Homo sapiens: one gene and its partners. The protein of the gene in region 1 interacts with the protein of each later gene in a biochemical or structural test. Each region holds a gene or a part of one and is shown in the gene's direction. Other genes may lie near its edges.

Region 1 (3,500 bases):
TGTGGAACAAGTATCTTGTCTATACTGTAGTTACACAAAGAGAATATAGTAGGACTTCCCCCCAAAAAATGTCCTTTTTTAGGATATGGGGGCCAAGTGGTTTTATATTATTCTATTATACTGTTCTATTCCAAGCGATGAATTTTAGATTGGGGTTTAGGTCTCATAGAGCCCTCTGCAATTTAAACTATTTTCCAAACAGTTTCTAATAAATTCTAAAGATAGCCTTTGCTTTCTCCCATGAGGAGAATGTAACCGATTTCCAAATTTACCCATAAGGCAGTGTTTTGTGGTGAAAGAGCTGAGGGCTGAGATCCATATATGATGGTTTCTGGTTCTATTTCTGCCACCTACTGGTTCTGCCAAGTGACCCTGCCAAGTCTCTCTACCTGTTCAGATGTGTTTTCTTATATGTAAAATGTAGGTTTTGAACTTGGATTTGTGGTCTTTCCAGCTTTCTGTGATTTTAGGCTTGGATAAAGTATATAGGCTGCTTACCTTTTTCAAATCCAACTTCTAGTCAATTTAGCCTAACTCCTTGTGGAGTAAGAGTGAGCTTCCCCCAGAATCCACCTCCCCACCCTGGCTTTTTAAAAAAAGTTTTGAGCCTCAGTGGAACAAGAATCCCAATCTTTGGAAGGGTCTCAGCTGAGAGTAACTTTGCTAGCTTCCCTTGAAAGAGTATGTTTGTTGTGTACATTGCTTTCTTTTGAGAAAAAGAATGTGGTTTTCATTATATATGAAAAACTAATACCAGGCTTGGCACGGTGGCTCACGCCTGTAATCCCAGCACTTTGGGAGGCCGAGGCGAGAGGATCACCTCAGGTCAGGAGTTCAAGACGAGCCTGGCCAACATGGCGAAGCCCTGTCTCTACTAAAAATGCAAAAATTAGCCGGGCGTGCTGGTGCACACCTGTAATCCCAGCTACTCGGGAGACTGAGGCAGGAGAATTGCTTGAACCTGGGAGGTGGAATATTAAATCCTTCTAATATTTAATGAAAAATCAGCCTTGGAGATACTGGCCACTGATATTTGCTGAATTTAATCAAGGAACGTTGATTAGAGTATGTTTAGGATTTCTATGGTTTTTAGAGGTTTTTATAATCTATTTTGTTCTTGCACATCCTCCTCCTCTTTTTTCCCTCCCCCAGAGAAAATCTTTTGTGTGTAGGAGTTGACCAGCTTTCCTTTTCTGTTTCAGGATGCAATTCGAAGTCACAGCGAATCAGGTACTTTTCCATAGTCATTTAGCCAACAATAATGGGCTTTTTTTCTTTATGCGGTGTATCTTCTGTTGGCTTATCCTTGTGTGGCTTCTGTTTGTCTTGTCTATTAAGCCTCACCTTCAGCCCTGTCCAGTAGCCCCAACAATCTGAGCCCAACAGGCTGGTCACAGCCGAAAACCCCCGTGCCAGCACAAAGAGAGCGGGCACCAGTATCTGGGACCCAGGAGAAAAACAAAATTGTGAGTATAGACAACAGTACCTCCTGCCAATTAGGGTTCAGTAAGAAAAACCTCGTTGGAAATTAGAATACTTAAACTTATTTTGGGAGAAGATTCTAATAAAATACATTCAATGAAGGAGATTATAAATGTTACTGTCATTTTTGGCACACTTGCATCAGACAGTTTGCCAGTGCTATAACTAAAATGGTATTTCTCAAAAGACAAAAATTGGAAGTATGGTTAATATGTTTATCTTTAAAAGATATGGAAACAGATGACATGGGTTGATCCTTTGATGCCCTCATTATCAAAAGATTATTACCATTGCATGGAGTATAATAATGATCTCTACTTGTTTCAGAGGCCTCGTGGACAGAGAGATTCAAGCTATTATTGGGAAATAGAAGCCAGTGAAGTGATGCTGTCCACTCGGATTGGGTCAGGCTCTTTTGGAACTGTTTATAAGGGTAAATGGCACGGTAAGCTTGGGGCCCTCCCTTTACTAACTGCAGGGCTTTGGTGTGAAGTCAAGTTTCAGCCCAGGGGGCCAGGAGGAGGAGAGGACTGAGTGCTCCTGGGCTTATAGCAGTACTCTCCCTTACATACTTGATTATACCTGAAGATTGAACTTAATTCTTTTTAGACTAAGTTCTTATAAAGCTCCCAGGATAATTAGAAATTAGTGAATAAGACTTGAGCCCTATAATCAAATGTCAGGAGTACTTCTCCTTTAAACTGATTAAATACAGTCTGCACATGGGTCATGCTTGGAAGCTCCTTAAGTGAGCAAGAGTCTGCTGCTATGGAGGGAGCATGGGTTCTAGAAACTTTAAGCTGGAAAGGACCTTAGAGATTGAAATGGGGACTGATTTGCCCATGGTCATGCAGTTAGGCATAGGAAAGCTGGAAATCTCCTGAAGTAACTTCTCTTTGTCCTGCCCTAGGATTAGCTGTGGGTGTCCCTATCAAACAGGGAAGGCATTGACTTAATTCTTGAATCTATGTGGAATATTAATGTTCTGATTTTAATGGAAACACTTTGTCACTTGGAAGAAAGGTACTATTTAACTTATGTAGTTACAGCTTGTGTATTTTGGCAACACTGAACATTTTGGCAACATACTTAGCATTTCTCTGTTAGGTTTTTAATGCCTCTGGCTTTAGGACTTTGGGAAATAATAGGTATTTCCTTGAAAATGCTGCATGTTCCCAAAAAGTCATCTCTTCTAAATTCAGATTACAATAAAGCAAAAATCACAGAGTCCCTTGGTGCCTATACTACTTTGGATGACACTGGAATTATCTTTAGAGATAAATGTGCAAAGATTGAGAGAAGTTAAAAGCATCAAATGAATGGAGTATTAAAATTCAAGGTACTGAAAATATCAAACACCTCCAGTTTTGAGTACTTGGTGGTTTTTTTTTTTTTTTTTTTTTTTTTTTTGAGATAGATTCTTGCTCTGTTGCCCAGGCTGGAGTACAGTGGCACAATCACAGCTCACTGCAGCCTCCAACTCTTGGGCTCAAACAGTCCTCCTGCCTAAGCCTCCCAAGTAGCTGGGACCACAGGTGAATGCCCAGCTAATTTGTTTTACCTTTTGTAGAGACAAGGTCTCACTATGTTGCCCAGGCTGGTCTCCAACTCCTGGACTCAAGCAGTCCTCTTGGGTCTCTCAAAATGCTGGGATTACAGGCATGAGCCACTGTGCCCAGCCTTACCATGTGCTCGTTAATGCATGGTTTTTACCACTTGTAATTAATCATCTGACCAATTTCTAGTTCCTTAAGAGGATTGGCACCCGACTGAACATTTGTAAAGTACATGTGGAATGATTCCTTTTCCTTTGAAAATTGCATCTGGCTGGGCAGGGTGGCTCACGCCTGTCATCCCAGCACTTTGGGAGGCTGAGGCAGGCAGAACACTTGAGCCTAGGAGTTCAAGAACAGCTTGGGCAACATCGTGAAACCCCATCTCTACCAAAAATTAGGTAGATGTGATGGCACTCGCCTGTAGTCCCAGCTACTTGGAAGGCTGAGGCAGGAAGATTGCTT
Region 2 (3,500 bases), about 36 Mb from region 1:
ATACCTTAACCAAAGATGCCCCCATTTTTATTATAACCTGGCTACTGTGCATCTTTTCTGGATTTAAGTGGGGTATTTAAACCCGTTGACCTGCTTAATTAAGCAAGGTGCAAGTAATAAAATGGAGGGGAAGATAGGCAAGCCAAAAATGTGTTCCTGACTGGAAGGTCACACTTCTCTTGACGCAGGATTATGTAGACAGTTTTTGTGAGGGCAAAGGACGTTTTGCTCATCTCTATATAATGTCAGCTGAGTATATATTCATTGAGCACTAAGTGCTCAGTGCCTACTATGTGCCAGGCCCTGTGAGAGTTGCTAGGACTAGATGAATCGGCAGTGTCTGTTGGCTAATTTAGAATTGATCTTAGATCATCCCAGGAAACCTTCGGTTTATTTGTCTTACCATTCAAGTGAACAGGTTTTAATGAAAGATGGGTCTGTCTGTTTTTTTTCCTGTAAGGACAACCGATGCAAGCTGTTTGACTCCCCTTCCCTGTGTAGCTCCAGCACTCGGTCAGTGTTGAAGAGACCAGAACGATCTCAAGAGGAGTCTCCACCTGGAAGTACAAAGAGGAGGAAGAGCATGTCTGGGGCCAGCCCCAAAGAGTCAACTAATCCAGAGAAGGCCCATGAGGTTAGTTTCCTAGGTTCCTTTTTGCTCTAGCACAGATACTGTATTTTTCAGTTCTAAAAATTTCTACTTAGTGGTTCATTTATTTTCTTTGCTAAGATTTGCTGGGGTTTTGTGGGGTTGTGTGTGTGTGTGGGTGTGTGTGTGTTTCTTTTAATAGAGATGGGATCTAGCGATGTTGCCCACGCTGGTCCTGAACTCCTAGCCTCAAGTGATCCTCCTGCCTTGGCCTCCCAAAGCACTGGGATTACAAGTGTGAGCCACCACACCTGGCTGATACTTGGCTGTTTTCATGTTGGTTTTTCATTTGCTTTGAGTATGTTCATAATTGCCTGTTGAAGCATTTTTAAGATGGCTGCTTTAAAATCTTTGTAAGACAAATCCAACATCCATCCATAGTGTTGTTGGCATCTGTTGATTGTCTTTTCCTGTTCAAGTTGGGATTTTTCTGGTTCTTGGTATGACCGGTGATTCTTCCATTGTCTCCTGTATATTTGTGAGTCTCCGGTCTATGTAAATTTTACGTTTTAGCAGGCTTCCTCTGATACTGCAAGAAAGGCATGGGTGGAAGTCCGGGTTCCCCAGCACAAACTCCATTGACACCTTGGGTGGGGACTTGTCTCATTATTGCTGGGAGGGAGTGGAAGTTCATTCCATCCCCGTGGGGTGGTGACTGGGGCACTGTATGACAGCTGGGCAAAGGTGGAGGCCCCCGCTTGCTGTTGGCCATAATTGTTTCTGTGTTGACTAGTAGAATGATTATTGTCTAAAAGTCTTCTGCCTCAATAGGCCATCCTTTGCCTAGGGAGAGCAGGCTTTTCTTGGGGCTTGTTGTGTTGCTGTCTCCAGCTTCATGAGTTGAATGGTTAACTCATTCGTTTTTAATTTTCTTATTTCTGGATAAATCTATTTGAATCTATGAATTTCCCACTGCTTTAGATTTGTCTCATAACTTTTGACCTGAAATGTTTTTATTATCATTTGTTGTAGATATTTTATTTCCTTTTAATCCAGACCTATCATGGCCTATTAAATACTTGATTTTTATAAAGGTCTGTCTTTTTTTTTTTTTTTTTTGAGACGCTCTGTCGCCCAGGCTGGAGTGCAGTGGCGCGATCTCAGCTCACTGCAAGCTCTGCCTCCCGGGTTCATGCCATTCTCCTGCTTCAGCCTCCCAGTAGCTGGGACTACAGGACCCCGCCACCACGCCTGGCTAATTTTTTGTATTTTTAGTAGAGACGGGGTTTCACAGTGTTAGCTAGGATGGTCTCCATCTCCTGACCTTGTGATCCGCCCGCCTCAGCCTCCTAAAGTGCTGGAATTACAGGCGTGAGCCACTGCGCCCAGCCCTGTCTGTCTAATTCTTCAAGTTAATTCATTGCATTGCTCATAGTTGTATAGGCTGTTTTGTTGTTTCCTGTTTCTGAGACAGGGTCTCTCTGTCACCCAGGCTGGAGTGCAGTGGCATGATCTCCGCTCACTGCACTCTCCACCTCCCAGGCTCAAGCAGTCCTCCCACCTCAGGCTCTCAAGCAGCTGGGACTATAGGTGTGTGCCACCAAACCCAGCTAATTTTTGTATTTTTTGTAGAGACAGGCTTTCGCCATGTTGCGCAGGCTGGTCTCAAACTCCTGGGCTCAGGGCAATCCTCCCGCCTTGGCCTCCCAAAGTGCCAGGATCATAGGTGTTAGACACAGCACCTGGCATGGGTGAGCTAGTGTCATGGTTGTCTGGGCCTAAGTCCTATGGTCCTTTGTGTTATTTTTTCTATTTATTCTGTGGCTAGACACACAAAACACTGGTTTATTTGTATGTTTTTCCTTCATTATACTGTCCTTATATTGAGGTTTGGTATTAAGCATTATAAAATGGTGAACTACCTGTGTTTTCTGTGGCATGAAAAGGTTTAAGTAAATCTCATCACAGTCTTAAAAGGTTAGAGAGATGACAGCTAGGAAAACATTTAGCATTTAGGCCTACTGCCTTATCGTATCTGCTTTTGTTTTTAATGCTTTATGAATGTTTTTAAAGTATTGTTCTAAAAGAATATTTTAATAATTGCATAGTATTTTTGTTTTGGGAGAGTTGTTTGGTTTTGGTTTTTGTTCTTTTTGTTTGTGGGGGGCACAGGGTCTAGCGCTGTCACTCAGGCTGGAGTGCACTAGCACGATCACAGCTCAGTACAGCCTCCATGGGCTCAAGCACTCCTCCCGCCTCAGCCCCCCTAGCAGCTGGGACTACAGGCATGCACCACCATGCCCAGTTAATTTAAAAAAAATTTTTTTTTATTTTTTGTAGAAAAGAGGTCTTACTGTGTTGCCCAGGCTGGCCTTGAATTCCTGGGCTCAAGCAGTCCTCCCACCTCAGCCTCCAAAGTATCTGGGACTACAGGCACAGGCCAGTGCACCTGGCCGATAGTGTTTTGACTTACAAGTATACTAGAAATAATTGAATAAATCACCTTCTGGACATTTAGAATTTCCCTTCCCCTGATTTTCCTTTTATTTCTAATTAAAAATGAAATTCTGGGTTATAAGGGCAAGAACATTTGTGAAACTTTACATTGTATACATGTCAGAAAATATCTATCAATATTTAATAATATTCTGGCTGAGTGCTGTGGTTCACTCCTGTAATCCCAGCACTTTGGGAGGACAAGGCGGGTGGATCACGAGGTCAGGAGTTCCATACCAGCCTGGCCAATATGGTGAAACCCTGTCTCTACTGAAAATACAAAAAATAGCTGGGTGTGGTGGTATGAGCCTGTAATCCCAGCTGCTCAGGAGGCTGAGGCAGGAGAATCGCTTGAACCCGGGAAATGGAGGTTGCAGTGAGCAGAGATCACGCCACTGCACTCCAGCCTGGGTGA
Region 3 (3,500 bases), on another chromosome or scaffold:
GGGCCAGAATCAGCCTGGGAGATTGTAAAATACGGACGTCCAGGTGTGCAGGGCCACAGTGCTGGGAGAAGCCAGAGCAGCCCCTTGGAGAGAGAAAACACAAACACGCACACATGAAATCGCTTAAGGATCACTCTGGGCAACAAGGGTGACTGTCCTAGACACAGAATCAGGGTGAGCCGAGGGCAGCAGAGCAGAGACCGTGGAGCAGGCCTGTTTACCCAGTGCTCCCGAAAGACGGCTTTTCATCCTTACATTAGAATCTCTTCCTTTAGTTACTGAGGGGCCTCTCAGGGGAATCTGTGGTTACCTCTCCACCTTCTTTTTTTTTCCAGACAGTCTCACTCTGTCACCCAGGCTGGAGTGCAGTGGCGCAATCTCGGCTCACTGCAATCTCTGCCTTCCAGGTTCAAGCAATTCTCCTGTCTCAGCCTCCCAAGTAGCTGGGACTACAGGCACCCACCACCATGCCTGGCTAATTTTTGTATTTTTAGTAAAGAGGGGATTTCACCATATTGGTCAGGCTGGTCTCAAACTCCTAACCTCAGGTGATCCACCCACCTCGGCCTCCCAAAGTGCTGGAATTACAGGCATGAGCCACCACACCCAGCCTCTCCACCTTCTTAAGCAAGAATGCAGAAGATTGCAGGGAGGGAAGACTGTTGATGTTGTTGCTTGTTTTAAGATGGTCAGGTGCAGATTGCATAAATATATTTGCATATTCTGAGGAGGAAAAGCGCCAGAGACGTGGACATTACAGGATGGAGGGGTGAGTGTAGGGCAGATCCCTTGGGGAGGGGAGCGGTCTACTGACCTGTGAAGTGTTAGCCTTGGCTGAGAAGATGCCTTCAGCTGCAAGTGACAGATGACCCAACAAATATGGCCTGAACCATGAGGAGTACATTATCTCATTTCAAGGATCAGGAATAGACTTCCAAGGACCCACCCAGCTCAAGGATCCAGGTCATTTTCTCCACTAGACTAGTGACCGTGTCCTTGGTTGATTCCCCAGTGGTTTTATGGCTCTGGCAGCTGCAAACACAACTCAAGGTGGCCAAAGACAGAGCTTTCTCCCCTTGTCCCTCCGTCGGGGAGGAAAACCCTCCCTATGAGTCCCTGCAGATTTCCCCTGATGTCCCATTGAGGAGGACAAGGTCACGTTGTCAGGTTCACAACTATACCAAATGCCCTGCTTGGGGTCAGGTTCCAGCCCATGCTGAGGTTCGAGGGGAGTGGGCGGATGGGCAGGTAGCTGAAGGAACACTCGTGGGGCCATAAGCAGGTGAAATGTAGTTTTACTCAACAGGTCTCTCAGCAGCTGACTCATACCAGCTCTCTCACACTGTCCGCCTTGACTCAGCTGTCTGCTCTGGCTTTGTGGCTCCTCTCAGCAGCCAGCTCCCACACATAGCTGCATGGCCGACTCTCCCCTGCCTTCGGGGTCAGCAGCTTAACTCTTTCTCTCTCTGGGCACGAGCTGAACTGTGCTGTGCCCTGGCTCCCCCTGTCTACCTGCAAAATGGACAGCTTTGGCTCTTTCTCTGGGCGCCAGCATGCCTGTACAGTGTCAGCAGGGCAATAATAGCTTTTACAAACAACAGTGGCTTAGAGCCAAATGATGAGCCTTCCGATGTTATGGCTATATGGCTGTGATGACAAGTGGAGTTATACGCCTGCGCTCTAAACTTGCTGAGTCACTCTGGATGTTTACCTCAGCCTATCCTTGACCAAAGCACAGCCATGTTCCTGACACGCGTGCTCTGGCCTTACAGCAAGGGAGGCAAGAAAGTGAGTCTGCCATTGTCAGCCCCTGGGGAGGAAGGAGGGCCCTGCCGGCAGGGCAGCAAGTCGGGAGCAGCTGTGGGTGGTGTCCTACAGGCTCTGCTGTGGAGGAAGAGCTGCTGCCCTGAGTGGAGGCAAGGATGGATGTGGGTGTGGAGTGGAGTAGGTGGGGTGGGGAACATTAAGGAGGGTTCTCTGCTAATGGCCATTCTGTGTAGACAGAGGGGCTGAGGTCCTCTGCTGAGGAGGAAAGGTCAGAGGTGATGAGGAAGTGATGAAGACTGGAAGAAGAGGATGAAGGGAGGGGGAGATGATTTGGGGCAAGGAGTCCTATTGCCAGGTAGCTCTGAGGGCCTCGCAGAGGCTGGATTGTGGATGTCTGATGGGCAGAGTTTAGTGGGGGGGGTCTCTCCAGCAGCGCTGAGCAGCCCCTTCGTGAGTGTGGAGAGGGGAGGAGTTGGGTCCATACCGAAGCAGGTTTTAGGGACAGAGGAAAGGGCCAGAGAAGCAGACGGCTCTTGGGAGACAGTGGTGGTAGTTGGGTCATGCTGTTGAGGCTAAGTATGGAGCCAGGGGAGGAGGAAGCAGCAGAGAAGGGGCTGAGGGAGAAGCTGGGGTCGGAGAGCACAGCCCCCGCTGGGGGCCAGGTCCAGGGGCCTCGGCTGTGGGTGGCAGACATGGGCTGGAGAGTGGACGCACATGGAGGGCCTGAGAGGGAGGCCATGGAGGGATGGAACCCCCAGAGGGTCACCCACCCGCTTATTTTATCTCCAGCGCACAACAAGGAAAGCACAGTGCGCTGGTGGGACCTTCCCACAGGAAGCCTCCAGCCAGAACTCTCCTCTGCGGAGAGGGTAGGGCATGTGGAAAACGAGCCCTTCTTTTGAACAGCGGAAGAATGAGGAAGGGCTGAGGGATCAGGGCCGTCTGAACAGCGCCTGGGAGGGAGAGAGGTGGGCGCAGCTGCAGGGGCCTGACGGGACTGAGAGTCGGCTCTGCTGCTTTCCCCGGTAACGTTAGCTGTTCCCTCCCCGCCACATGACCCACCTGTGCACATGTGCACACATCCTCAAGGACTCACACTTATACCCACACACTCACACTCCAGACACAAACACACCCCCCACACCCTCTCACACACTCCATACACTTACACACACGTTCACCCCGCATGCTCTGAGACGTGCCTGTATTCACACTCTCACCTTCACACACACACACACCCCCACCCCACACTCTCCCACACTCACCCTCACCCCCACCCTGAACCCTGACCCACACCCACACACACCCTCACACACAGACACCCAACACTCGCACACATACCCCACAGTCACACACACACCCAACACCCTCCCACACTCACACTCCACCCCACATTCACACACCCCACCCCATGCCCTCCCACACTCACACTCACCGCCACCCCACACCCTCCCACATTCACAACCCCAACCCACACCCTGACACACACCCACAACACACCCACCTCACATTCACACACCCCCACCCCCCATCCACACTCTCACACTCACCCCCCACCCTGTACCCTCACACACGCTCACCCACCCTCACACACACACCCCCACCCCTCACCCTCATACATGCTCACACACGTGCTCACACACACACTCACACACACCCCACCCCTGACCCTCATACATGCTCTCACACTCTCACACACACACACCCCTCACCCTCACACACACCCCAACCCA
Region 4 (3,500 bases), on another chromosome or scaffold:
TGCTTTGTTTACCTAATCAAGCCTGGGCAATGGCGGGCGCCCCTCCCCCAGCCTCGCTGCTGCCTTGCAGTTTGATCTCAGACTGCTGTGCTAGCAATCAGCGAGACTCCGTGGGCGTAGGACCCTCCGAGCCAGGTGTGGGATATAATCTCTTGGTTCGCCGTTTTTTAAGCCAGTCTGAAAAGCGCAATATTCGGGTGGGAGTGACCCGATTTTCCAGGTGCGTCCGTTACCCCTTTCTTTGACTCGGAAAGGGAACTCCTTGACCCCTTGGGCTTCCCAAGTGTGGCAATGCCTTGCCCTGCTTCGGTTTGCACACGGTGCGCGCACCCACTGGCCTGCGCCCACTGTCTGGCACTCCCTAGTGAGATGAACCCGGTACCTCAGATGGAAATGCAGAAATCACCCGTCTTGTGCGTCGCTCACGCTGGGAGCTGTACACCGGAGCTGTTCCTATTCGGCCATCTTGGCTCCTCCCCTCCTTCAATAAATATTTGTTGAGCATGAGCACCAGTGCCAAATACTGTGCCTAATCACAGTGGTTGCTGTCAAGGAGTATATACACTAGCTGGCGAGACTAGTGTGCAAAAGACAGGGTTAAAGGGCCAGCAGAGAGGCGAAGGTTGCATATGTATTGGAGTATTGCGTTGGAAGATGCTTTCTTTTTAAGCTTGTAAGTAAAGACAGGAATAACTTAAGAGTACCTTATTGCATGACCGTGTAGCAAAATATTTAAAGTCTGGACTTCTACATTGAAACAGATTTGTGTTTAAATTCTAGCTCCAGGCTGGGCGCGGTGGCTCATGCCTGTAATCCCAGCACTTTGGGAGGCCAAGACGGGCGGATCACAAGGTCAGGAAATTGAGACCATCCTGGCTAACACGATGAAACCCCGTCTTGACTAAAAATACAAAAAATTAGCCGGGCATGGTGGCGGATGCCTGTAGTCCCAGCTATTCGGGAGGCTGAGGCAGGAGAATGGCGTGAACCCGGGAGGCAGAGCTTGCAGTGAGCCGAGATCGTGCCCCTGCACTCCAGCCTGGGTGACAGAGCCAGACTCCATCTCAAAAAAAAAAAAAAAAAAATTCCAGTTCTATCAGTTACTAGCTTGGCTATTTATTCAACCAGACATCGGCTTTCTCATCTGTAAAATGGGGATAATAATAGTATGACTCCCATAGGGTTGCTGTAGGAATTAAATGAGATATTGCAAATAAAACACTTTAACACAGCTCCTAGCACGTCAATTTTTTTTTTTTTTTAAGCATTAGGTAGATTGACTTGGGAAGTGGGAGGGACTTGGTGAAAGAAAGGGCCTAAGAAAAGTCAATTTAAGGATTGTTAAGTAGTAATGAAATCCAGCTAAGGTTATATGAAATCACTGTCACCTTAGATTTATGACTTTCTCATACTTTGTATGGGTTGGAAAATAGTATTGAATTACAGATTTGGCAGTGTTAATAGGGGAAAGGGCAAGTAAGGAATACGGAAGATGAGTTAAGGGTGCTAATATAGAGAACTTCATTGAAATACCTGACTGCTACCTAGATTAGAATAGGAGGTTTGAAGCAAAGCCAGGAGATAGCTCTTGTGCAAGTAGAATTGGGAATGACATGGAGATCTTGAAAAGGTGAAGAACAAATTGGTTAGCAGTGAGAGGAATTATTTAGGTAGAAGAAAAAGTTGTCACAGAATGGAATTTTATAGTTTTGAGATTAATAGAGCAGTTCACTTCTAGAGAGATGTAAAAGGGGAAAGAAGATAGGCTTCTGTTTTTATAATTTATTTCTCATTAAACTGGTACTTTGTAGAGATGTACTTTTTAAATTTTTTTGAAAGTCTGAAAATAGACAAATTTTATAATGATTCAGATACCAAAAGAAGGAACTACCATATTCCATAAATATAAATTAACTGTGGAGTTTTATGTGATGCGATATTAAAGGAAAAACATTGGCTTTTTAAAAAAAGGTCAGGCTTGATTCTTAGGTAGTTTTTTTTAATTGCTATAAACATAGACATTTATAAAATAATAATGGTAGTTAACTATGTACCACATATTGTGCCAGATGCTTTACATGTATTATTCAATCCTTACAACTTTGAGGAAGGTACCGTTATGTATATTTTACAGATGAGGAAACTGAGGTGTATGGGGAAGGATGAGGACACATAGCTAGTGAGTGGGCCTAGCCAACACTGGAACCTAGGTCTGTTTTGACTTGGCAACTCAAACCCTACAATACTACAATACCACGTCTTAAGTATGGGGTGTTGAAAAGAACACTGGTCTAGGATGCCTGGTTCTGCAGCTTATTCTTTCTTGTGATCTTAGGCCACTCATTCTTTTCTGAGTCTTTTTTCTCCCTATGTAAAAATGAGAGGCAGTAATACTCGCCTTGTTTAATTGACAGGATCACTGTATCAAATGAGACAAATTACTATGAAAGTGCTTACAAAAGTAAAATGATATAATGGAAATACAAGAGTATTATTATATATGGTGGGGGGAAATTTTTACTGTCTTCTACAAATCTCTTGCAACAAAATAAAGTAAAAGCGGAGTTCTAGGACATGTAAATATATAGACTTAAAAATTAAACAGAGACTTCCTCTGGAAGTTTTCCAAACAACAAACTTACAAATGCAAACAAGTTACTTTGTTCTTTTTTGAACTTTATTTAGTGCCTAAATTGTTTGTAGGGTTGGTTATTAGTGACTATATGAGTATAGTTAAAGGAGTTTAAAATCTAATGGATTTCTTTTTCTTTTTTTAATGAAGATGATTTGTCATTAATTCGGAAGAACAGAATGGCTCTCTTTCAACAATTGACATGTGTGCTTCCTATCCTGGATAATCTTTTAAAGGCCAATGTAATTAATAAACAGGAACATGATATTATTAAACAAAAAACACAGATACCTTTACAAGCGAGAGAACTGATTGATACCATTTTGGTTAAAGGAAATGCTGCGGCCAACATCTTCAAAAACTGTCTAAAAGAAATTGACTCTACATTGTATAAGAACTTATTTGGTGAGTTTGTTGGGAAAATTATTTTAGAAATTCTTAGGACTGGCCAGATGCGGTGGCTCAGTTTTGTATTTAGTAGAGTAATGGTTTTTATGTTTTCTTTCCTCAGTGGATAAGAATATGAAGTATATTCCAACAGAAGATGTTTCAGGTAAAACAAAGATTTAAAACCAACATGAACTATTACCCTTTTTTTTTAATGAAGTGGAAACAATTTCACTAAAGTTATTTTTTGTTATTAGGTCTGTCACTGGAAGAACAATTGAGGAGGTTGCAAGAAGAACGAACTTGTAAAGTGTGTATGGACAAAGAAGTTTCTGTTGTATTTATTCCTTGTGGTCATCTGGTAGTATGCCAGGAATGTGCCCCTTCTCTAAGAAAATGCCCTATTTGCAGGGGTATAATCAAGGGTACTGTTCGTACATTTCTCTCTTAAAGAAAAATAGTCTATATTTTAACCTGCATA
Region 5 (3,500 bases), on another chromosome or scaffold:
GCGCTTCCCGACTGTATCTGCCACGGATTGCACCGTGCGCTCCGTGCGTTCTCCAGAGAGCTCACTTCTCTTGAGATTAGGCTCCCATGTAACGCTTAGCCTAAAAACACAGGCTTTGCAACCTATGGAGAGTGCTTGCCATGGGCTGGGAGCGGAGGGGGCAGCAGAGAGAGCACAGGGCATTTTTAGGGCATTTTTCGGGCAGCGAAACCGCTCTGTCGAGGCTGCCATGGTGACTGAAGACCACGCACTTGTCCAAACCCACAGCGTGCACAGCACCGAGAGAGCCCTAAGGCAGTGTTGCTAATAAGGGAAACTGTTCGGGGTATGTGGAAACTAATTTCTGCACAGTTTTTCTGTAAACCGAAAAGTGCCATGCAAAACGAAGACGATTAAAAACAAGAACAAAACCACAGGCTTCTAATTCCAAGATCTCAGTGCAGCAGACATTTTATGCTCGTATTCGATAAGTGCACTTAGGAGCTGCAGACCTGGGGACATCCCCTTGGAAGCTCTGAATGTCAGAGGGCCCGCTACTCCTAGCCCCGGAAAGGGCTCACGGTGAAGCAAAGTCCGCCGCCTCCCTCAGTGTCCCAAGATGGGCCCATTCCCCAGCTACGGAGCCTCTGGGAGGTGTTTTCCATCCTCTGAAACACTTCCTGAGTGCTCTGGGAGATCTGCATCATCTAGAATATTTTCAATCTCAGGTCTATACTTCTTCACCAACTAGGACAGAAGTGGGGAGGCTGGGCACCCGGGTGCTTCTGGCAGCTGATGGATGCTAGCCACCCTCAGCAGGCAGGAGCCCGTTAGGAAATGGACGGCGGCACAGGGCTCCCAGTGCAGCCCACGGTTCTCTGTGTCTTTCCAGGTGACGCCTCGCACACCACCCCCGTCGCAGGGAAAGGTAAGACCTTGGAATGTTTTGATTGATCATCACTTTTCTGATAGACCTTCTCTAAAATCCCATAATGTACCAAAGAGAGAGTTAGGCTCCGAGCTACCAGAATCCATCCCAAAACGTGTTGCCAGGCAGCTCCCAAGTAGAACAGGTCGGCAGATCCATGCACCCCTCCTGTCCCTCCCGCACCTGCACAGCCGCTGTGGCCCTGAGCCTGCGGCCCCCCTCGGAGCTCCGGGTGGAACCTGTTTTTACCACCTCAGCTCCACTGTGCTTTGACTGTGTTTCCTGTTGATTGAAAGGACTTTCCCTTCACTGACCACCATGTCATTATTTCTCTGTCTTCCTCATGCAGGGGAGAGGACTGTCCCTGAGCAGATTTAGCTGGGTAGGTGACGAACGCACTTCCATCGGCTTCCTCTTCCGTCCCAGTCCTCACAGCCCCGCAACTTTTGTGTTCTGCTCTGTTTCGGTTGCTTCCTGGCCTCCTTTTCTCTCCTCTCGAGACCTCTCTGCCCACAGCTGGGATCGGGCCGCCTTGTCTTCCACTGGGGAAATGAAACGTGGTCTTCCCTTCCGGAAGGTCTGGTCTCTTGCTTCTGTGCCGGGGACCCAGCCCTGCAAGGCCAGATCCTCTTCTCCCAGAGGGTTCCCAGGCGACGTGACTGGTCTCCCTCCCAGGGAGGGAGCAACACCACGTCCGAGAAAATGTTTAACTTCCTCCAACACAACCAGTGCGAGAAGCCCCAGGAACCCGCATGTGGAAGTGGGACTGGCTGGCCCGTCTCAGTGACCCCAGATGCTGACACTGGGAAAATGATTCTGCTGATGAACAGAAAAAGAGGCTAAATAGAGTTGCTCGATTTATAATAACCTCATTAATCCAAAGATTTTTGTTTTGTATGTGTTTAAATAATAATTAAAACATAGATATCAAGCCATCCAGAAAATCTTCCTTAGGAATTTTAGGCTGGTTAATACTGAAAGCAAACTTTCAAGGAAGGTTTAAAATGGCCAATTTGAACTTTCTAGTGAAAAAATTTGGTGTCTGAGCCAAATTAAAATGCCAATCATTATATTCTAACCAAACTTACAGACTTTAGTTACTAGCAAATACCAGATATGATTCTTACTGTATAAAAGTTATAATTTTAGAATAAAATGGAGGAATAACCACCAACGTATTGTAGATAGGTTGTGTCTGTCTCCGAAACTGCAATGCTCTCATACGCTAGAACAGAGCCTACCTACACTTTCTGCTCAATTAATAAGCATCATATAAATGAATGAATACATTTTAAAAGAAAAACAACAAGGAGAAAGAACAGGAAGAAAGAACAGGGAAAGAAAACAGAAGGTGGGGAAGAGGAAGGAAGAGAGGGAGGAAGGGGCAGGGTACTTGAGAGACCATGAGGATCCCAGATCAGTCCCACACATGATTACACTGAATTATGAACTAAGATATTTACCGAAACGTTTTCCATTAATGCATATTTGACTTGCTTTTTCTGACCTAATGAATTTGCAAAACGATGACAATCATGTAGCAAATGTACATGGACTAGTACTCACAATTAATTTTTTATTTTCTATGCCAGCAGGAGACAAAGATGATAGAAGAATGAAATTCATTTTTGACCCAGAAATCTTATTTTAGCTACTGCTTTATCTGCTCTTAATTTTCTAGGAGTGGACTTTGGGGCCGTCGTGCCGGATCCTCCCTGAATGTGGAGCGATGGGGGGTTGCACACAGGCCGTTCTGCCCCAGCAGCTAACAAGAAAGACCCTTGCATTCCTCCCTGCATCTCTCCCTTTTGGGTCCTACTAATGTCTGTTGAATTTCTCTTTTTTCCAAAGCAAAATCCTTCTCTGCATTTTGTCTGCTTGTCTGTTTCCCAGAGCCGCAGGACTCTCTCCTTGTCTGGAGTTCCAGAGAGCCCCCACTTTCTCTTTCTAAGCTGTGTTGTGTGTTTCCTGGTACATTCTAGGTTCCCCAAAGATAAACATGACTAAGGATTGGAAAGGAGGAAAGGCCGCGCAGATTGTTAATCTGAAAGTCAATCCCCGGATTTAGCTCTCAAAAATGCTTTATTTTTGGAGAAAAGCAATAGAGTAAGACAGAAGGACTTAACGCTTGCAGGGAAGTGGCTTTCTGCCATGTAGAGCCAGGCTGGCAACCTGCCCTCTGCCATCAGGGAGTGAGCATGAACCTGGAAACCTCTAGGACGCAAGAGCGAGGCTGGCTGTCCCCTCGTGTGCAGTGCTTAGACCTTCTTGCCACACATCCCGTCCCTCACCTCACTGGATAGCCCCCGAATCAACTGTTCACACGAAAGCAGCTGCCTGGTTCTGAGTGGCCATGCTCACTCCCAAGCACAGGCTGAATGAAAAGAAAACTGTGCAAGTAGCTTGTATGGTGGGAAGCCCCCAGCAGAGGCTGAGGGTGCAGCCAGGTGCTCTGGAAGCCTTGAGGCCTCTGGTGTCATCTTCCTCACCTCTAAATAAGAGATGGGCTAGGTTGGTCAAGGTCCTCCCTGTCCTAAAACACTTTAATGAAATGGAAGAAAGGCTGCAGGCTGATAGAGGAGGGACAGTCTGG
Region 6 (3,500 bases), on another chromosome or scaffold:
AGGAAACATGTGCTCTCTCCATCCTCCACCCTTCCTTTCCCCTCAGTGTACTCTTTTGAGCCCTTGGGTCCACCCTTCTTCCCTATCCTTGCCTGAACCTTTACTGTCTAGCTCAGTGCAATACTGTGCTTGCTTTTTTTTCCTCTTTTTTTCTCTTTCTGCTACAGAACATCCTTTCTGGGCTGTGGTTGGTAACTTTTTATAATTTCAGGAGAGAGACTGTTTTCTTTTCTGGCAAATTGCTGAGGCTGTGTTGATAAGTGAACGCATACATAGTTCTGTACATAACTGTAGTATTAACTGTCTAACTTCTCTTGCCTTCTGAACAAGCATGGTATTGGCACTTCATGCTGTTTGTTTTTTGGCTTGGGTATAGACTTAAAATGCCCCAATCCTTCTCTTGCCCCCAGTAATACCTCAACTACTGGTGGTTGTATAAAAGGCACTGGACTCTGAAGATAGAGACCTTGTCTTTATGGAGTATCTTTATGGAGTACTTAGTAGGTGCTTCATACATGATCACTGAACAAATGAGTGAGTGAAATCAAGAGAGCAAGGACAATTGGCTGAAGGGTTTCAAGTAGTGGGAATGAGGCTTTGCATGGTGAACAACACAGATCAAACTGGATGGCTTTGCATACTACATAAAACCTGGAGGGCTTTGCATAGCATGTAAAGAAACTATGGAATCCTGTAAGCAGCAGGGAGCCATTTAATTTATATGTTCTCTAGAGGTATAATTCATATATGTACAAAAAAGTGTACAGATCTTAAGTGTACAGCCTGATGGGTTTTTACTTATGTAAATTAACTGTGTAGTTGCTGCTCAGATCCAGAGACTATTTCCAGAACCCCAGCTTTTGTCTTGATTCACAACGTTTGGATACCAAATCCCAGAGGTCGTGTGGTTGGTCTGAAGTGTAACTAGGACTGGAATTATTACAGCTACTCCTGAGCTTAGCAAATCTTTATACTTGAGTAAAAAACACTAATTCAGACCATTTAACTGCATGACAAAAACAATAGTTATTATTATGGTTGACATTTATTAATCAGCATGCCTTGGCACTTCATATGCATTATTTCATTTTACCTGCTTCACAGGATTTTGTTCCTGTCTCTGTTTTACAGATGCTGAAGATTAGACATGTAAAGTGATTTGCCTTAGGTCCCACAGCTAGGGAATAGCAGAGTTAGAATTAAACCCACGACACTTCATCACGGGGACTGATTACTTATTGGTGATCTGTTGCCTCAAATATCTGGTACCCAAGTTTAACAAAAATGTTGCCTTTTTGGTGAGAGGTGATGCCTGTATTTGTTACCTGCACACAGTGAATGCTCTTAGGGATATTCTGACCTATGGATTCTTAGAATTTTGAGAGGGAAAGAGGTTTTTGATTCTATGATAGGCAGTTCCCAGAGTGATGTTTCGTTGGAGGAGGATTGTTTCAATGTGGATGGCTCTTTACAATTTACGTGTAGCCAGTAGATGATGGTCTCTGTAGACAAAGTATGAAGATAGGACACAGCAAAGATTGGGTGTGAACCTAAATATCCAAAAATCCCAACAATGAATTTGTCTTAAAAATTAATATGAGTGGAAATAAATGCATGTAGCAGTATGGCAAAATTCTTGTAATACTAAGATTGTGTTTCAAGAGTTAAGACATCCAAAGAAATGTCCATAGCGAGTAGAGGTAAAACAGTTTATTATACTGGACTTCAAAGTTGCAACAATCTTTTATATAACAATCAAACCAACAATCTTTTGTGCATGTTAATATCTTAATCTCACAACGCCAAGAACTGTCACATTTAAAGAATTCTAGCTATTGTGCATGGCTTGGCATTTGTAAAAAATGTATTTAACATTTGTTTATTATATTTTAGGCCAAATCAGTAGGGACAGTGTAGCACTTTTAGGCATCAGCTGGGAGTAGTCAGTGAAATTCAGGTTTTACAAGATATAAAAGCATGGCATATGGGGAAACATGTTTCAAGAAATGAATCTTAAAAAGTACAGCGCATGCTTTATCCAATTTGCTTGTGAAAGACTGCTGATTCCTGTTGTTTAAAATAGTGGGTGTAGAGAATATTGTTGCCAGTAAAATTTATTTACTTTTTGAAGTGGCATGGGTGCCAAAAAGTAAGTTCATGATTGTTTTGATACCTGCTTTTTTTTTTTTTTAAGGCTAGTTAAGTGAATTGATACCTGTTTATTTTTAAATGGTGATGGAGTGGTGGAGGAGATGGCTTCCTACTAAAAGTTACTGCTGTTGGTGAACATTTCTTTTACAGACTTTGTTCAATACATCATGCATTGAAGTGAAACATCAAAAAACAAATAGGATTATAGATATGGAATTCTGTGATTAAAGTTAAACATTTTAATTTTAATTTAAAAAAAATTTTTTTAAGAGACAGGGTGTTATTCTGTCTTCCAGGCTGGAGCGCAGTGTGGCATGATCATACCTCACTGTAACCTCGAACTCCTGGGCTCAAGCAGTTCTTCTGTCTCAGCCTCCGGAGTAACTAGGACTACAGGTGTACACCACCACATCTGGCTAAGTCTTAAATTTTTCGTGGAGATGCGGTCTCACCTTGTTGCCCAGGCTAGTCTGGAACTCCTGGGCTCAAGTAATTTTCACAAAGTGTTAGGATTACAGGCATGAGCCACCATGCCTGGCTTTAAAGTTATTCTTAAGACTTAAATAAAATGTGGAAAGTGTCCTTCAAAAAAAATATGTAAAGTCATGGTATCAGGCAGATTAATATATCTCCTCCCAAAACCAGGGGATTCTTTTCTGTCCTCTTCAAGAGTGCTTGTTTCTGAGTAGCTCTCTGGTGTTTGCATAGGTCGCCACGAATGTTGGGTCCCAAGAGCCAGGAACCCTTGCCTGAAGAAGGCTAAATACTCTTGATGCTGGTTCCTAGCATTAAGCTGTCTCCTTCCAAATCATTCCTTCAGATTTTGTAATGAGCCAGTGGGAAAATGGGCTTTGAGGAAGTCAGTCCAAAGTAGATCAAAGGAGATACTCAGAACAAATGGAGGATGATGTTGGTGTCCTGGTTAGTGCCCTTCTGTAAGAAGAGGGAAATGCACTCTCTCAGATTATTGTTGTTATCTTTTTTAAACCTTTTTCTTTTTTGGAGACAGGGTCTCATCCTGTCACCAAGGCTAGAGTGCAGAGTGGTATGATCATGGCTCACTGCAGCCTTGACCTTCTGGGCTCAGGTGATCCTTTCACCTCAGCCTCCTGAGTAGCTGATTTTTTAAAACCCTTTTAAATAAAACTGAAATGTAGGCTGAGATTCTTCCCTTCTTACTTGGATACTTTAACTGTCCCCCCCCTTTTTTTTATGGTAATGACTTCGGTAGTTGGGAGGGTTTGATCAGAGAAGAGAGGAATAGAATTTAAGATAAAAAAACAACAAAAGATGTCAGTGAAAGAGTAAGTTTGAGGTTCCTACTAATGAAAAAATTTCAAAATGATATT
Region 7 (3,500 bases), on another chromosome or scaffold:
ACAGAAATTATCCGCTCTTGATCTTTACCTTGTTTTGTACTGAAAAATACTTGTTATAACTATTAAAGATATAAGACATAAATACAGAAAATGAAAATATGGTAGGATTTGGAGTTGCAAGAGGAAAAATCAGTTTTGGATGTGGTATCAGACAAACTTGTGTTCCAATTCCATCTCTGCCATTTGTTAGCAGAACGACCATGAGCAAGTTATTTAACCTTGAATCCTCATTTTCTCTGTCTTTGAAGTAGAAATAATAATAGTGGCCTCACAGAATTATGATTAAACCCTGGCATTTAGTAGCCACTCAGAAACTCATTCTGCCTTTAGATGTAACAACCAATTAGTGACATAGCCAAAAGAATGACCCCTGTATTTTTTGTTTACTTGAAGTTATCACCTTTTCATCTTGATTAACCTTGAAACCATGGAGTGTACCTGAATGCATTTCTGAGTTTGGGTATATTCAGATTCATCCTTTTCCTCCCTTGAAATACATATATTTGAGGTTTTGTGTTTTTTTTTTAATATAGAGAATCTCCACTCTTCCTGGCACTGTGTTTTGCTTATAGTTATGGTCTTATCCCCTTCCCTTTGTAAAGTTAGGCATCCCAAATATACAGAATGAAAACAGTAAATTTAAGCTATTAAATGCCAGACTAGCTGAGATCATACTTTTATGATAACTAGCTTTAACATGCAGTTTATAGAAATGTATCATATATAAAATGTGGGATAAACCTGAGTTATGTGTTTATAGTTGAATTTCTGTAACTACTATATGACATAATCTTAGAACAAGAATTACATGCACATATATTAGTAGCATAATACCACGTGGTATAATACAACGTAGTCCCTGAATAAATAAAACAGAGATCTTGGGTCTCTTTGTTTTTTCTTGATGATTACATTGCAGGAAGTGATATTTTTTCATCTAACATATAATGTATTTTAGATCATTTGTTTTAGCCTTCTAATATTTTGATTGGGATTTTAAAATATGAAGTAAATTTATAGTTCTATTCTTTTAAATGTAACATTAAAAGAATTATTAAATCTAACATAAAATGGATAGATGTTTAATGAAATATGCTATCTTACAGCCAAATTTGTATCCTACTGTGGGGCTTCAAACACCAGGAGAAGTGGTCGATGCCAATTTTGGGCAACATCCTTTCGTGTTTGATATAGAAGACTATATGCGGGAGTGGAGAACCAAAATCCAGGCACAGATAGATCGATTTCCTATCGGAGATCGAGAAGGAGAATGGCAGACCATGATACAAAAGTAAGAGTGAAGAAATTTCAATTGATGCTATTCAGAATCTGTTTTTTATAAGACATTTATTCTGTTGGTATCCACAGAAGCTTTTTAATCCACTAATTTATATACTGACATATCTATTATATTATTGATTTTAATCTCTCAACGAAAAGTAATTTACTCCACTATTTAAACAAATTAAAAACAATTGTTTGACACACGTACAGAATTGTATTTCAGTCTGAATTAATTTGATGAAGGAAATAAAATGATGTTAGGTCACCTAGGCTAGGTTAATTCATTTGCTATTCTTAGTAATAGGATTTAATGATTTCTGTAGGTTATACAATTTAACTTTTAATAATGTTAATGGAAAAGATAAAGTTGAGAGATAATCTAGATCTTATAATCAGGATCTGTGGTTTTTGGTCATGAACTTGGCTATGTCCAAGCTCTTAATATCTGAACTATCAGCAGTAGTTAAGTATGGACTTAAAATTTAAATAAATACCATTAAATTTAAAAAGTCCTCTTCACTATTATAATCCAGGTCAAGAAAATAGCAGACTTTCAGATACAGTTGGTCCAACACATTTCATCTTTAATGTCCTTATAATTGCTTTGAATATTCTTAACTTTAAAATTGTAATAAAATGTTGGGGGTATTTTTTAGAAAAGGAAGTGATTGGGAGACATGATGATGACTCTGAAATCACACTTCGTCCCTGGAGCTATTATCATCTGTATTACAGAGATTGGACACTAGTTTTTTTGTCCAGCCCAGTTGAGAATAGACAACCCTGATGCAGAATCCTATAGTCACCACGAAGTGAAGCTAGAATGGGTTGTTCTGGGGCCACACTGTTTTAATGCTCTGAAAATGGTTACCACTGAGTATCATGGCAAGATAGTAGAAAACATTTATCTTAACCTTATAACCAGGATCCTTCCACCCACTTCTTCACTGACTTGATGTTCACCATGAACTCTTGAGAAGTCCATTCTAAAAGGTCCCCTCCCCCTTAAATTAATTTGAACAATTGGGTAAAATAAGATGCAGATCTGTTTCTTAGACATTTTCCTCCCTTTTCTCCCTCCGCTCTTTGCCTCAGTCTCCTCCTGTGGTGAACCACTGCTTCCCACGATTTTCTAACTGGCCCTTAGTAGTGTCAGGTGGAGGCAAGTTTAAAAATTGACTGTTTGGAGATAACAGATATTTGGGTTAATATTGTTGCATCACCAGTTTTTCTAACCACATCTTGTGGGTAGATGTAAGTATATGTTTTGACTACCTGGTACGTTTTTAAAAGATTATTGTCTTGGAAATGTGTCACTTACATGTAAACCATATTTGATAAATCTCTTGGGTAAAACCATAGTAATTGATTTAGATTAGAAGGCTGATTCCTCCTTTAATTAGTAGTACACTTATAGACATGTTCTGGAAGATTGTCTCTCTGGATTCACCTTAGTATTCTGTACATACTTTGTGATCCCACTTCATTTAACCGGTGTGTAAAGAAGATGGTTGAACTCTGGAACATTAAGAGTTAATCTTTTATTTTAAAGTTGGTTATTTTACAGAATGCCAGCAATACTGGAATAAGTCATATGATAAAGTCAAAATAGAAATTATGGTTAGTAGGGCTGAATAATAAGATAGGAAGGGACCTGGGGGTAATGAGAGTCCAAGAATCAAAGAAAAGGTCATTTAATGTCCTTGATTCTCAAGTAATATTTATTTTAGGGAGAGTAGTCTCAACATAGCATTTGCAGTTATCTTTTCGAAAATAGTACATGAATAGAACAAAATGATGTTTTTCAAAAGCTTACTTTAAAGGTGAGGTTCTTAACGCCTTGTTTCAAGGAAATAGGTTCGTTTTTATAACACCAGAATAGATTTTGTTTATATAAATTGTAGTATGAAGCATGTATTCTCTTCACTAAAAGATGTATGTTTCTTCTTTTTATTTTAAGAATGGTTTCATCTTATTTAGTCCACCATGGGTACTGTGCCACAGCAGAGGCCTTTGCCAGATCTACAGACCAGACCGTTCTAGAAGAATTAGCTTCCATTAAGAATAGACAAAGTAAGGACACTGTGGTGCATGGCTAACATTTGTTTTCAGATTATAGATTTGGTTACTTTAATTTTTAGAAATTTTGTTTTTTTAATTAAAAAAATTTCAAATATATTAATTTAAAATGGATGCCTCTGAATTTTATTTTCACT

What was found.
Region 2: the proteins of RAF1 (region 1) and CDC25A form a complex in vitro, tested with the Homo sapiens proteins (one study listed by BioGRID).
Region 3: the proteins of RAF1 (region 1) and GNG4 form a complex in vitro, tested with the Homo sapiens proteins (one study listed by BioGRID).
Region 4: the proteins of RAF1 (region 1) and BIRC2 form a complex in vitro, tested with the Homo sapiens proteins (one study listed by BioGRID).
Region 5: of the proteins of RAF1 (region 1) and MBP, one has a biochemical effect on the other in vitro, tested with the Homo sapiens proteins (one study listed by BioGRID).
Region 6: the proteins of RAF1 (region 1) and RRAS2 form a complex in vitro, tested with the Homo sapiens proteins (one study listed by BioGRID).
Region 7: the proteins of RAF1 (region 1) and RANBP9 form a complex in vitro, tested with the Homo sapiens proteins (one study listed by BioGRID).

Annotation. Positions count from the first base shown.
Region 1 is NC_000003.12:12,598,118-12,601,617, reverse strand, and holds part of RAF1 (RAF proto-oncogene serine/threonine-protein kinase), read left to right. Parts: intron 1-1,202; coding exon 1,203-1,230; intron 1,231-1,338; coding exon 1,339-1,466; intron 1,467-1,809; coding exon 1,810-1,927; intron 1,928-2,392; exon of another isoform or gene 2,393-2,505; intron 2,506-3,500. UniProt on the Homo sapiens protein: Serine/threonine-protein kinase that acts as a regulatory link between the membrane-associated Ras GTPases and the MAPK/ERK cascade, and this critical regulatory link functions as a switch determining cell fate decisions including proliferation, differentiation, apoptosis, survival and oncogenic transformation.
Region 2 is NC_000003.12:48,171,418-48,174,917, reverse strand, and holds part of CDC25A (M-phase inducer phosphatase 1), read left to right. Parts: intron 1-460; coding exon 461-634; intron 635-3,500. UniProt on the Homo sapiens protein: Tyrosine protein phosphatase which functions as a dosage-dependent inducer of mitotic progression. Directly dephosphorylates CDK1 and stimulates its kinase activity. Also dephosphorylates CDK2 in complex with cyclin-E, in vitro.
Region 3 is NC_000001.11:235,587,285-235,590,784, reverse strand, and holds part of GNG4 (guanine nucleotide-binding protein G(I)/G(S)/G(O) subunit gamma-4), read left to right. Parts: intron 1-1,717; exon of another isoform or gene 1,718-1,788; intron 1,789-3,500. UniProt on the Homo sapiens protein: Guanine nucleotide-binding proteins (G proteins) are involved as a modulator or transducer in various transmembrane signaling systems.
Region 4 is NC_000011.10:102,374,714-102,378,213, forward strand, and holds part of BIRC2 (baculoviral IAP repeat-containing protein 2), read left to right. Parts: intron 1-2,782; coding exon 2,783-3,037; intron 3,038-3,143; coding exon 3,144-3,185; intron 3,186-3,276; coding exon 3,277-3,470; 3' UTR 3,471-3,500. UniProt on the Homo sapiens protein: Multi-functional protein which regulates not only caspases and apoptosis, but also modulates inflammatory signaling and immunity, mitogenic kinase signaling, and cell proliferation, as well as cell invasion and metastasis.
Region 5 is NC_000018.10:76,986,284-76,989,783, reverse strand, and holds part of MBP (Golli-MBP), read left to right. Parts: intron 1-871; coding exon 872-907; intron 908-1,256; coding exon 1,257-1,289; coding exon of another isoform or gene 1,290-1,694; exon of another isoform or gene 1,695-2,081; intron 2,082-3,500. UniProt on the Homo sapiens protein: The classic group of MBP isoforms (isoform 4-isoform 14) are with PLP the most abundant protein components of the myelin membrane in the CNS. They have a role in both its formation and stabilization.
Region 6 is NC_000011.10:14,296,684-14,300,183, reverse strand, and holds part of RRAS2 (ras-related protein R-Ras2), read left to right. Parts: intron 1-3,500. UniProt on the Homo sapiens protein: GTP-binding protein with GTPase activity, involved in the regulation of MAPK signaling pathway and thereby controlling multiple cellular processes. Regulates craniofacial development.
Region 7 is NC_000006.12:13,642,336-13,645,835, reverse strand, and holds part of RANBP9 (ran-binding protein 9), read left to right. Parts: intron 1-1,106; coding exon 1,107-1,291; intron 1,292-3,244; coding exon 3,245-3,357; intron 3,358-3,500. UniProt on the Homo sapiens protein: May act as scaffolding protein, and as adapter protein to couple membrane receptors to intracellular signaling pathways. Acts as a mediator of cell spreading and actin cytoskeleton rearrangement.